Linked DNA regions of Homo sapiens. The protein of the gene in region 3 purifies or fractionates together with the protein of the main gene of each other region. This does not show direct contact. Each region holds a gene or a part of one and is shown on either strand. Other genes may lie near its edges.

What was found.
Region 1: the proteins of ARHGEF4 (region 3) and PPIL4 purify together in Homo sapiens (affinity purification with mass spectrometry, with the first as the bait; one large-scale study listed by BioGRID). This does not show direct contact.
Region 2: the proteins of ARHGEF4 (region 3) and BPGM purify together in Homo sapiens (affinity purification with mass spectrometry; one large-scale study listed by BioGRID and IntAct). This does not show direct contact.

What each region holds. Positions count from the first base shown.
Region 1 is NC_000006.12:149,514,965-149,518,614, reverse strand, and holds part of PPIL4 (peptidyl-prolyl cis-trans isomerase-like 4), read left to right. Parts: intron 1-1,164; coding exon 1,165-1,261; intron 1,262-1,598; exon of another isoform or gene 1,599-1,658; intron 1,659-3,650. UniProt on the Homo sapiens protein: PPIases accelerate the folding of proteins. It catalyzes the cis-trans isomerization of proline imidic peptide bonds in oligopeptides.
Region 2 is NC_000007.14:134,656,791-134,660,440, reverse strand, and holds part of BPGM (bisphosphoglycerate mutase), read right to left. Parts: intron 2,348-3,650; exon of another isoform or gene 1,731-2,347; intron 1-1,730. UniProt on the Homo sapiens protein: Plays a major role in regulating hemoglobin oxygen affinity by controlling the levels of its allosteric effector 2,3-bisphosphoglycerate (2,3-BPG). Also exhibits mutase (EC 5.4.2.11) activity.
Region 3 is NC_000002.12:131,035,770-131,039,419, reverse strand, and holds part of ARHGEF4 (rho guanine nucleotide exchange factor 4), read right to left. Parts: intron 568-3,650; coding exon 388-567; intron 1-387. UniProt on the Homo sapiens protein: Acts as a guanine nucleotide exchange factor (GEF) for RHOA, RAC1 and CDC42 GTPases. Binding of APC may activate RAC1 GEF activity. The APC-ARHGEF4 complex seems to be involved in cell migration as well as in E-cadherin-mediated cell-cell adhesion.

The DNA.
Region 1 (3,650 bases), on a different chromosome or scaffold from region 3:
ATTGCTGGCCACTTTTGTTTCTGGAGTCTCTGGAATTGCCAAATAGATTGATCTTGTCTTTTTTGCTTACCCTATGGGTCCCCCTTTAAAACCCTGACAATCAAGGTACACATAGGATTCTCAGTCAAAACCTCTGTCTGTACCTCCAGTTTGTTTTACTTCTACATTTAATCTAGGACCCTTCTGTAGGAAGCCTTTCTACAAACAGCATTTCCTAGTGGTGTGGTTGAGGGATAGGAAAGGCAGGGCAGTCAACAGGTCTGGGACATGGATGCGAATTGAATTCTCATCTGGTAGGAGACTTGAAAATTGAATTCTCATCTGATAGGAGACTAGAGTTGAGAGTAGAGAGGCTGCATTGAATGCTCTTCCTTTCTAGCCCTACCAAGCTAGTTAGGATGTAGCAGTAGGTCCTATTTTCCTGAGGGGATTTTTGGCACTTGGGAGGAATGAAGTTGCCCCTAAGTTAGAATTTCAAAGTAGAGACAGTTTGTCTTTGGTGCTATTACCCACCCTCTCCTCTCACAGCTGTTTGGTGATCTTCTGCACATCCTGCCCTCTTCTATTTGCCTGATGCTCTGTTGCCATTTAGCAGAGTATCTCTTGTTAAATCTTTTTTTTTTGAAACGGAGTTTCGCACTGTCGCTCAGGCTGGAGTGCAGTGGCACGATCTCGGCTCACTGCAACCTCTGCCTCCCAGGTTCACGCGATCCTCCTGCCTCAGCCTCCCGAGTAGATGGGATTACAGGCACACACTATCTCGTTAGATCTTTAAAAGGTCTCTTAAAGTCTCACTTCTCTCAAACTTAGGTCTTTCAGATCTTAAACTCAGGTCCCAAATCCTCAGTTTTCCACTGGACTTAATGTTCTCATGGGCTCAATGGCTCTACTTGAACACGGCATTTGTGTGTAATTTATTTGAAAGTTTGATGTTGTAATATTCACATATATCGTTAGGTGGCAGCATGTGGCTACCTAGCAAAAATGGATGTCTGATTTCAAATTAGTAATGGAGATGGAATTACTATGATTCTTTTGTTCCCTTTCTCTGTCTCTCGATATATGCCATTTATAAAATAGCTCTTATGCTTTTTATAAAATAATTATTGTTCTTGGTTAGGTGGTTTTTTTACTAAGCTCTTTTTTTCTTTTCTTAATAAATAGGTGGGAAATACACCAAGAGTGATTTCAAGGAGTATGAAAAAGAACAGGATAAACCACCTAATTTGGTTCTGAAAGATAAAGTAAAGCCCAAACAGGAGTATCCTTACCAAGAATCAGTTAGTTAATATGTATTGACCATCTGCTATGTGTAGAGTACTGTGTGATGTGTTATGAAAAGTCACAAAAGCTATAGAAGACAAATTTCCTGAATCCAGATTGTTTGTGAGGAAGTAACTTAGTTTATCATTATCTCTTTTCAAGATCTTACATATACTTTGCTTTTTCACTATACTCTAGTGTATGGAGAAAGTTAAGGTTGAAAGAAATCTGTAGCCTAATTCTTTTATTAATACTTTCCTACTCTAGGTTAAGTACTTTCCTACTTATCATATTCTCAGAAGATCTTCAGGTAAGATTTGTATTTTCTTTTTGGGGGGGCTTTCCTGCAAAAACCGGAAAGCCTACTAGACAAATTCTAAAAGAGCTGTAACACTAGCTTTGTATTTTCTATATGTAATTGTAATGTTTTCTATTCCTCATAATCTGAAATTTATTATTGCTAAGCTGATTCCTTTGTGCTACCTGCTGTTATGTTTAACTTCCTTACCTAGATAACAAAATCCTATTGTTCTCTGTTACAATGTTAGGTTACTTCTTTCGGTATAGTATATTGTAATTTCAACAACAAATATTTATTGGGCTTCTACTGAGTGCAAGAGTTCACTTTTGTAGGATTAAAAAGAAATCCATTGACTTGACCATTTACTTCAGGTTCTTCCAAGTTTTAGGTTGAGACATGTAAAAAGTAATGAAACATACTGTTTATATTATGACATTTAAATTGGTTCACTAATTTTTCCCATTATAAATATATCACTCCACACATTGCAAGAGTTATTTCTGTTGTGATTCTTTCTGGTAAATGGTGTCTTTGTTTCCTAGTTTCTATTGGTATTTCAGGGATTTTTTTTTCTACATATGTAGACATTTCTTTTCCAAGTACTCATCAAGAAAGATGAATATCAGGTTGACCTGGTCTATATTCATGTTTTAAGATGTGTTGATTGTCTGCAATGTATAAAGCATTGTGAGGTGTTAGAACTGGATAAAGTCTGAAGAAAGCTGATAAAATCAGCATAAGGAGAGGCTTTCACATGCAGACAGACCAAATAAGAAGCTGAGATTTGGTCAGAAAAGATCAACATTCAAGGGCATATGATTGAAAGCTCAAAATCATAAAAGTTATGAATGGAATACATTTGATATTTATTTACCAAATCTTTGAAATTAAATTTAGGCTTATTACTAATAACTATAGCTGGAAGAAGGGGAATTTTAAGTTTTCTTTAATTTTAATTAATTGAAACAACCACACATATACTTATATGGAATAGTGTAGCTTCTAGCCTTTTGAAGTTGATGCAAAAGAGAGAAATGCTGTTAGGGGATAGTCTGATGTGCAGATAAATTGTCTTAAGTCAGTTAAGAAGGCATGGTGGCATCTACTTTATGGGCCTTAAGAGAAAGAGAAATTAGTGAAAGTATAGATTATTAATAAGAAGAATCAAAAATAGAAGTAGGAGAAGGAAATAACTTGGCCCAACTAGACCTCAGGGAAGAAATTGGAGAAAAGATGGCAGTGAGCTCACAAATTTGTGTTTTATTCAAAGGGAGAGGGATTTGATGTCTTCTGAAAGTGTTGATTTTAGTGATAAGTACAAGATAGTGGGTAAGTGAGGAAGCAGGAGATACAACAAGTGTCTTGAGGGTATGACAAGTAATCAACAGATACTTAGTAAGCATCTGTCACATACTCAGTTTAGCAATGAAAGATATTCAGTTCCTGCCCACATAGAGCTTACATTTTGCTGTTGGAGTGGGGAAAAAAAACCAGACATTAAATAATTACCATTCTAAATACGTCTAAATTATTGCAAATAAATATTGCAAAGAGATATGGGACTCATAATAGGGGGCGAGAGGTTAGAGAATACCCTCAACACTGAAAAAAGTGGCATTAAAGCTGTGACACTAATATGGGAGATAGGAGGGCTGAGGTGGAGTGCTGTCTTCTTTCGTATGATCCATCATTTAAGAAATAGGCTGGGTGCAGTGGCTCATGGGAGTGCTGTCTTCTTTCGTATGATCCATCATTTAAGAAATAGGCTGGGTGCAGTGGCTCATGCCTGTAATCCCAGCAGTGTGGGAGGCCGAGGTGGGAGGATTGCTGGAGCCCAGAAGTTTGAGAGCAGCCAGGGCAATATAGCGAGACCCGGTCTCCATTTTTTTTTTCTTAAAAAAAAAAAAAAAATTGGCTGGGTGCAGTGGCTCATGCCTATAATCCCAGCACTCTGGGAGGCCGAGGCGGGCAGATCACCCGAGGTCGGGAGTTCAAGACCAGCCTGGCCAACATGCAGAAACTCCGTCTCTACTAAAAATACAAAAAATTAGCCAGGCGTGGTGGCGGATGCCTGTAATCCCAGCTA
Region 2 (3,650 bases), on a different chromosome or scaffold from region 3:
CCGCCTCTCTCTCTCCTTGTGGTGGACACATCTGCACTGACACATGCTTGGTTTACACGCCCGGCCTCTCCATCTCTCCTCCAGTGTTTTGCACACTGGGTTGTAAAGATTATACGAGCACTACAGCCTGGTCTTCTGCCACTCTTGGCAACTTCCATTAACTGGAGATTTTCTCTCCCACTTAAACTGTGAGTCACCCACAGTAAAATAACAATCAATGGCAAAATTGATTGGAATCTAGATCTAGTTTCTACCTTTCTTTAGTAATTCCTAGAGATTCTGAAGGGAAAACAGTCTTTAAAATAAGGCTTTATATTTCAATGGAAGGCAAACAGAGGACTTAAGGAAAGAAATCAAATTGAGGTGATTTGCAAGTATCGTCATGTGTTGCTTAATGAAGGGAATATGTCCTGGCAAATGCATCATTAGGTGATTTTGTCGTGCAAACAACATAGAATGTACTTACACAAACCTAGATGGTATACATATTGTTACTTATGTTTTTTCATATGGAAAGCCAAGTATCCCAGCACAATTACTGAATATCAGTCATTTCCCCTACTCGATCTGCAATGCCAATGTCAAGTGCCACATATCAGATGTCTATATATGCTCCATTACCATCTTACAGGGCCACCATCATTTACACGATCCATGCTTGACTGAAACATCATTAGGTGGTGCATGACTGAAGTTGAAAGGCTACAGCAGTTAGGATGATGATTTTCCTTTCTTGTTAAGTACCAGGTTGCTGTGCATGTGCAGCAGGGAAGTGCCAGGGAACCAGAAGAGCCTGGGCTCAGGACCCAGATTAAAGCATCCCACAGAGCTGAGAATTCCCAAGGAGGAAGCCCAATGTCTCTGTCCTTAGCCTAGAAGAGGCATCAGGGTGGCAGAACAGAGAAGGGAACAAAAGGTATCTAGGCAGTGTTTTGCCAGATGACTGCCTGTGCCCAGGGGCAGAATAGTCATGAATCTAACAAAGTTCAAGCTTCAGAGCCCCTCACCTGTGAGAAACCAGGTGATGAACACACACACACACACACACACACACACACACACACACACGGAGGGGTGTGTGTAAGTGTGTTAATTTGCAAATGGAAGATATTTTTGCAGTGTTTCTTTACAAAGCCCCAATCCACCAAGTAGTAGAAGCCTCAGCTCCATCAAAAACTGTATCTACCCTTTGTAACCATTGATCATTTTGTTTTGTTATTGGTAGTGGAGGAGGGGGATGGAGAAAAAAGAAGCTATCAACTGTTCCTCTACCTTCACCCTCAGTTTATCTTGTCAAGTGAGAAACCTCCATAAGCTAATGAAGCCATTCTCTCTTCAGTTAAAGAAGGGCATGGTTAGACAAATTTTGTAGACAGAAGCACCTTTCCACCATCTTTTGATTATAAACTATATCAAGGGGACAAAACAATGTAGTAATAGCAACATGGACACTCAGGCACCCACCACCAAGCTTTGTGGTATCTTATTCTCCTATATTTGCTTACTGCATTAAAACAAAGTTCTGTTTTCTTTTTACTAAAAAAAAAATACACACACACACACACCAGAACAGAGGAACAGTACTGCAGTCACAAAAACTATGCAAATATGCATCCTTCCCTCACTCTGAAGCACAGGAATACATTTACGCAGGTGAATACATGATAAAGTACTAAACTAGTATGTCTATCTCAAGAAAACAAAAGGTCACTTTCCTCTCTCCTCCCTAGTACTATCAACGGACTTTTCCCACTTAACTGCTGGATACTTACAAAGAAACTGCTGAGGATTAGCTTGCAAACATAGAAACTTCAGTCAACATCCACAGGAGCTGATTTACCCAGTGTTTACCAAGAAACACACAACGCTGTAGCCAGTGTGATTTAAAGTTTAAGGCATGGATTGCAAACTCAAATGCCTGCAATGGGCAGGCAGCTGTGTGAAGCAGAGTGCAGCTGGACTATGCAGAGTGATGGGCACAGTGACCTGCAAGGACCATGCATGCTTCTTTGAAGGAGGCAACTCTTGTGTAAACAGAAAGTTTTCCGATAACCTCATCTCACTGAGCCAACAGCACTGTTCTTAGAACTTTTCTGGAAAACAAAAAGAAGATGGGATTGCTGACATCGAAGACTAGGATGAATGCAAGACTTAGAGTCAGACCACAGAGAAACTTTGAGTAAATAAATGTCTTTTTTAAAAAAGCTAAAACAATCATTTCAAAACCTCCTAAAAATTCATGTAAAAAATCAAAGGAGTACCTACTACTTAGCTCCAGCCCATTGCCCTGTGATACTGAGCAACTGAGGTTTCTAGATCTTCCAATTAAAAAAAAAATGAAAACGTGTATTTTTATCTGATATCTGATTTAAATATTAGCAACTAATGTATATTTGTAAAATGTGAGTGAAACAAAACATTTCTTCTGCAGGCTAGATCGTGGCTGCTAGCTTATGACCTCTGACTTAAAGGGAAACCTCCCCTAGGCCACAGATAAATGGTACAGCCACTATACCCCAGGAGACGGTCAGAACCCAAGCGTCTGGACCACTTAACCAGCTTTCCTGTTATTGCCCAACACAGCCTTTCAAAGGACAGACCCTCTAATCCCCATAATGCTCTGGGCTTCCTTCTCCCTGACCCACCTTTACAGCCCTCCCTCACCAAACCATTTGCTGGTGCCCTGCAGAATTCCTAGCTCTGTCCTCAAACTCCCACTCAGCTTTGAGTGTCAATTGCACTGAAAAAGATCTGAACTGAAAACGACCTCTTCCCAGGTGACACTGCTTCTCTCTCTAGTGGGGGGTGCTCATGCCTCATACCCTAGGGTTAGGTTCAGGTGATGGGCAGCGTCCTGCTTCCTCCACTGACCAAATCGCCCCTCCCCCACCATCCTAGGGAGTTGGGGAGCTTCAATGTTGAAAGTCTTGCTATATTCAGTTGAAGTTCTCTTGCCCTCATTTATTAACTGCAAACTAACAATTAAACTCCTTGAAAATTGAGTATCTTATTTTAAAACCTCAATTCTTCCTACTGGTCTTAGAAAATGTTCAGAATCCTTCATGTGACCTGCAAGGCTTTCGTTTTATTTCCTTGAGCATGTCAGGTTCTTTCTTGCCTCAGTAGTTTTGCACACACTGTACCCTATGCAGAACACTCACCCTTCATCTCTTCTCTCCATTGCCACTTCAGTCTCACCCTGCTTTAGGTTAAGCTCTAGTCATCCTTTAGATCAGTTGTGTCCAATCAAGATATAATGCGAGGCACAATGAAGTTTTAAATTTTCTACAAGCCACATGAATCCTATAGGTCCAAAAGCTATCATTCAGACATGGAGTCAAAGGAGATCATTTTGGAACTTTAAGGTGTAACAACTGCTCTATTGGATTTTGGACTTGCATGGGGCCTGCTGTAGCCCCTTTGTTTTGGCCAATTTCTCCCATTTGGAACAGGTATATTTACCCAATGCCTGTAGCCCCACTGTATCTAGGAAGTAACTAACTTGCTTTCAATTTTCTAGGCTCATAGGCAGAGAGGGCTTGCCTCGTCTCAGATGAGACTTTGGATTTGGACTTTTGGGTTGATGCTGAAATGAGCTAAGACTTTGGGCGACTGTTGGAAAGGGCATGATTATGTTTTGAAATGAGAGG
Region 3 (3,650 bases):
CCGTGCCTCAACTTCTTCAGGTGTAAGTCATGGTTCCCACTCCCGGGGCTGTGTGTGAGGTGAGCAGTCCCCTATCAGTGCTCTTCAGGGCTTGGGAAATGTCTAGCGCCTGGAGTTGCGGGGGTATCGCAGAGGGGTGCCTAGTGTCTGCACACACTCATTTCTCGACTGCTCTCCTCTCTGGCCCCCGAGGGCTCACCAGAAGAGGAATGGGAGCAGGAGTAGTGGCTCTCCAGGAGGAGGAAGGCTGTGACACTGCGCCCCGACACCCACCACCCAGTGCTCTGCACCTAGGATGCCAGAGCTGTTTTGGGCTTGGATTTCTCTGCAGAACCAGGTAGCTTTTTATGGGCCCAACTTGGGAGAAGCTGGGGCTTGGAACCATACCCGAACGAAGCTGGCTGGAAACCAGCCCTCGCCATCGGCGACCCGGCCCCACCACCACTCTCTGTTGGTGGCATCCATCACTTCGATGACGTCCCCAGCTTTGAAGCCCAGCTCCTGGTCGTCCATGGTGACATGGTCCCAGAGTGCTTCAGCGCAGACCACACTGCCATCGCTGATGAGCTGCCGAGAGAGCCACGGGCAGGCGGGTCAGTGGGGGAGGCTGCCTGGGCCTCCCTGCTCTCTGTCTCCACTCCCTCAGCAGCCCTGGGAAGAGGGGATCCTGACTTCTTTACAGAGGAGCTGACAAGGCTGCCTCTGACAGGAGCAGGGCTTTCCTGGGGCAGGGGCTATGTTCTGGGCATGTCTAGATTATCAAGGCTCAGTGATGGAGCCGGAAGTGAACTGACCACAGAATCTGATCCTGTCACTGGGACTGCCAACTGCTCCCTGTTAGCATTCCCAATCCAGAATTCCTGGGGGCTGCAAGGCTGCAGGAGGGAGGGGCTGGGCACTGCAAGGCTGCAGGAGGGAGGGGCTGAGGGCTGCAAGGCTGCAGGAGGGAGAGGCTGGGCTGCAAGGCTGCAGGAGGGAGAGGCTGGGCGCTGCAAGGCTGCAGGAGGGAGAGGCTGAGGGCTGCAAGGCTGCAGGAGGGAGAGGCTGGGCTGCAAGGCTGCAGGAGGGAGGGCCTGGGGGCTGCAAGGCTGCAGGAGGGAGGGGCTGGGCGCTGCAAGGCTGCAGGAAGGAGAGGCTGAGGGCTGCAAGGCTGCAGGAGGGAGAGGCTGGGCTGCAAGGCTGCAGGAGGGAGGGGCTGGGGGCTGGTGCCCTCCTGTGGGCTTCTTGTGGATGAGCATTGCCTGTAAGGTCAGCCACCAACCACAATGCCCCTTCATCCAGGTAGACAGTGCCCTGCCATTGGAGTGATTGGAGCTTGTTTACTGTGTGTTTTTCAACACTTGCAGAACCAACCTCATGGCACCCCTGCTCCCATCCCAAGCCCCAGAGATGCCAGCACCAGCTGAGCAATGCCCCTTCTTAGAGCTCTAGGTCCCAAGCCCTGTGATCCTAAGTTTGAGTTAGTCCAACCTCTTCTCTTCATTTCCCAAGTTCTAGGAGAAGCAGAAACGTTTTGCAGCTGCTACCTCTGTGACAGGCACTTCAGGACTGCTCTTATGCAGTGTTACCCAGTCAACCACATTATACCTAGCCGACCATTCTTCACATGCTTCTCTCTGCTCAAATAACCAGCAGAGTGCCTTGCTCCAGAGTGGTGTGGACTAAGACACTGGACGCTCCCCTGCCTCTCCCAGGCAGCCCTTGTACGCCATGGGGCTGACCCCTGCTTTCTCCTAACATGGGATCTGTTTCTGCTCCCTGAATGATGAGCAGTTCTAGGGCCTTAGGGCAGGAGAGGAGGAGTGGGCTGGGGCTGCACAGGAGGTGAGGTCCACGACCCTCCCTGCTAGGACCAGGTGTTGGCACTGGCTGTCACAGCTGTGGGGGCGGTCAAGGATGGGAATGTCACAAACAGGCCCTCCTCTGAGCTCCCATCCCAGGAGCCCTCCTTTCACTTCACTGGGTACTCCCTAAGCACTGTGTGAATCCTCACCTCAACATGGAAACCAAGAGTGGGGCCAGTCCTGTGTTCCAGCTAAGAGGCCTCTGCCTGAATGGGCAGGGTGAGGGCTGGGGCTGGCCACTGGAGCACTGAAGCTCCAGAGCCTGCTTGGGATGGTGCTTTCCTCCAGGGGTCCTGAGCAAGCAAGTTCAGGGAAGGACAAACCTTCTCTTTCCTGGGGGTAAAACCTGCTCCAGTCCTGATGGACGCTCTCCTCAGAGTGACACATGAGCCTGTGAGCCCAGGAACCCTCACAGCGCGGCAGCCACGCGGGGGCTGCAGACCTCCAGAGGCCTCCACGGGGTCCCAGGCACAGAGCCCTGGGTTATTCCTGGGGGCAGCAGGCTTCCACAGGGGGCCACTGCTCTCATTCCCAGCCACAAAGACCTTCTGCAGGTGGCCTCCAGATCATGAGCTGCTGCTGCCACTCAGATGAGATGAGACAGGAGGGCTCAGGCGACCATATGGTAGGAGCCCACCAGCCACAGTGGGGAGCTGGCTCACCCCGCTGAGGCCCTGAAGAATGAGGCTCCAGGGAAAGAAGGAAGCAGACATGGCGGTCTGGGGACACCAGTGAGAGCGTGAGCTGTAGGTGACATGGCCCTGACCTGGGGTCTGTGACACAGGCTGTCAGGAGGTGACCCGACACACTCAACATGGCTCATTTTCCCACTGCTTCCCTTCTCAGGAGGTTCCTGCCTGATATTAACCAGGTGAGGTGTCACCCTCTGTCTCTAGGTTCCCTTAAATGAGCCCTGAGCAGAAGCCTGGTGCCCCCATTCCCCTTTCCTTTATGCTGCCTGTCCCTGCAGGTGGGACTGGGTCCGGCATAGGTGGCCCCCCACATAGCTGCCAGGGAAGGTCACCAGGTGTCGGGCAAGAGGAGGGCTTCACAGAGAGGCCAGCTTCCAGGCACCATTAGGGACAAGCCCCACACTTGTCCTGCCCAGTCAGCTGGAAGACCTTGGGGAGGAGGGGAGGAGGTGTTAATTGCCTTTGTCGCACCCTGGCAGAGGGACACGTGCCGTGAGCAAGCTCTCCTCCTGTGTCTCCCACCAATGTAAGGATGTCAGCCCCTTCTGCACAGCCTCCCACTCGGGAGGTACTCTAATTTAGAGTTAGGAGAAATGTGAACTGTTTGTGTTGTCACCAAGACAAAATGTGGCTCTGTGAGGTCAGAGACAGTTTCGTAGGACATCAGAGTCATGCTCCACCTCCGATGCTATTGCGCTGGGTGCGTTTCTGGGCAGAGGCCCTTTTTGGTGCTCGTAGGCACAGCTGCACCTGAGCCAAGACACAAGCCAGGCAGGCCCAAGGGGCAAGGAGTCCAGGCTGCCTCTCTGCCTGCAGGGAGCGGAGACTGACTCTTGAGACACAGCAGGGCTGTGAAACTGGCTGTTCTATTGTGGGAGAAGGTCCCAATGGAGGTGCACATTTGAGACTCAAATAGCCCAGGGCAGGGAGCGGGATCCCCTCCTGTGCCTCTGAGGTTCTGACAGCCTCCAGAAGGGCAACGCTGCCAGGCTCTGCCTCCAGCTACTCCCTGTGACCGCCACTGCCCTCCCCACCCTGCCCACCTACCAGACGTGCAGGGTGGGGGCAGCTGTGAACACCCGCAGTTTGTGCAGCAGGGGTGGGGGCTTCAGAG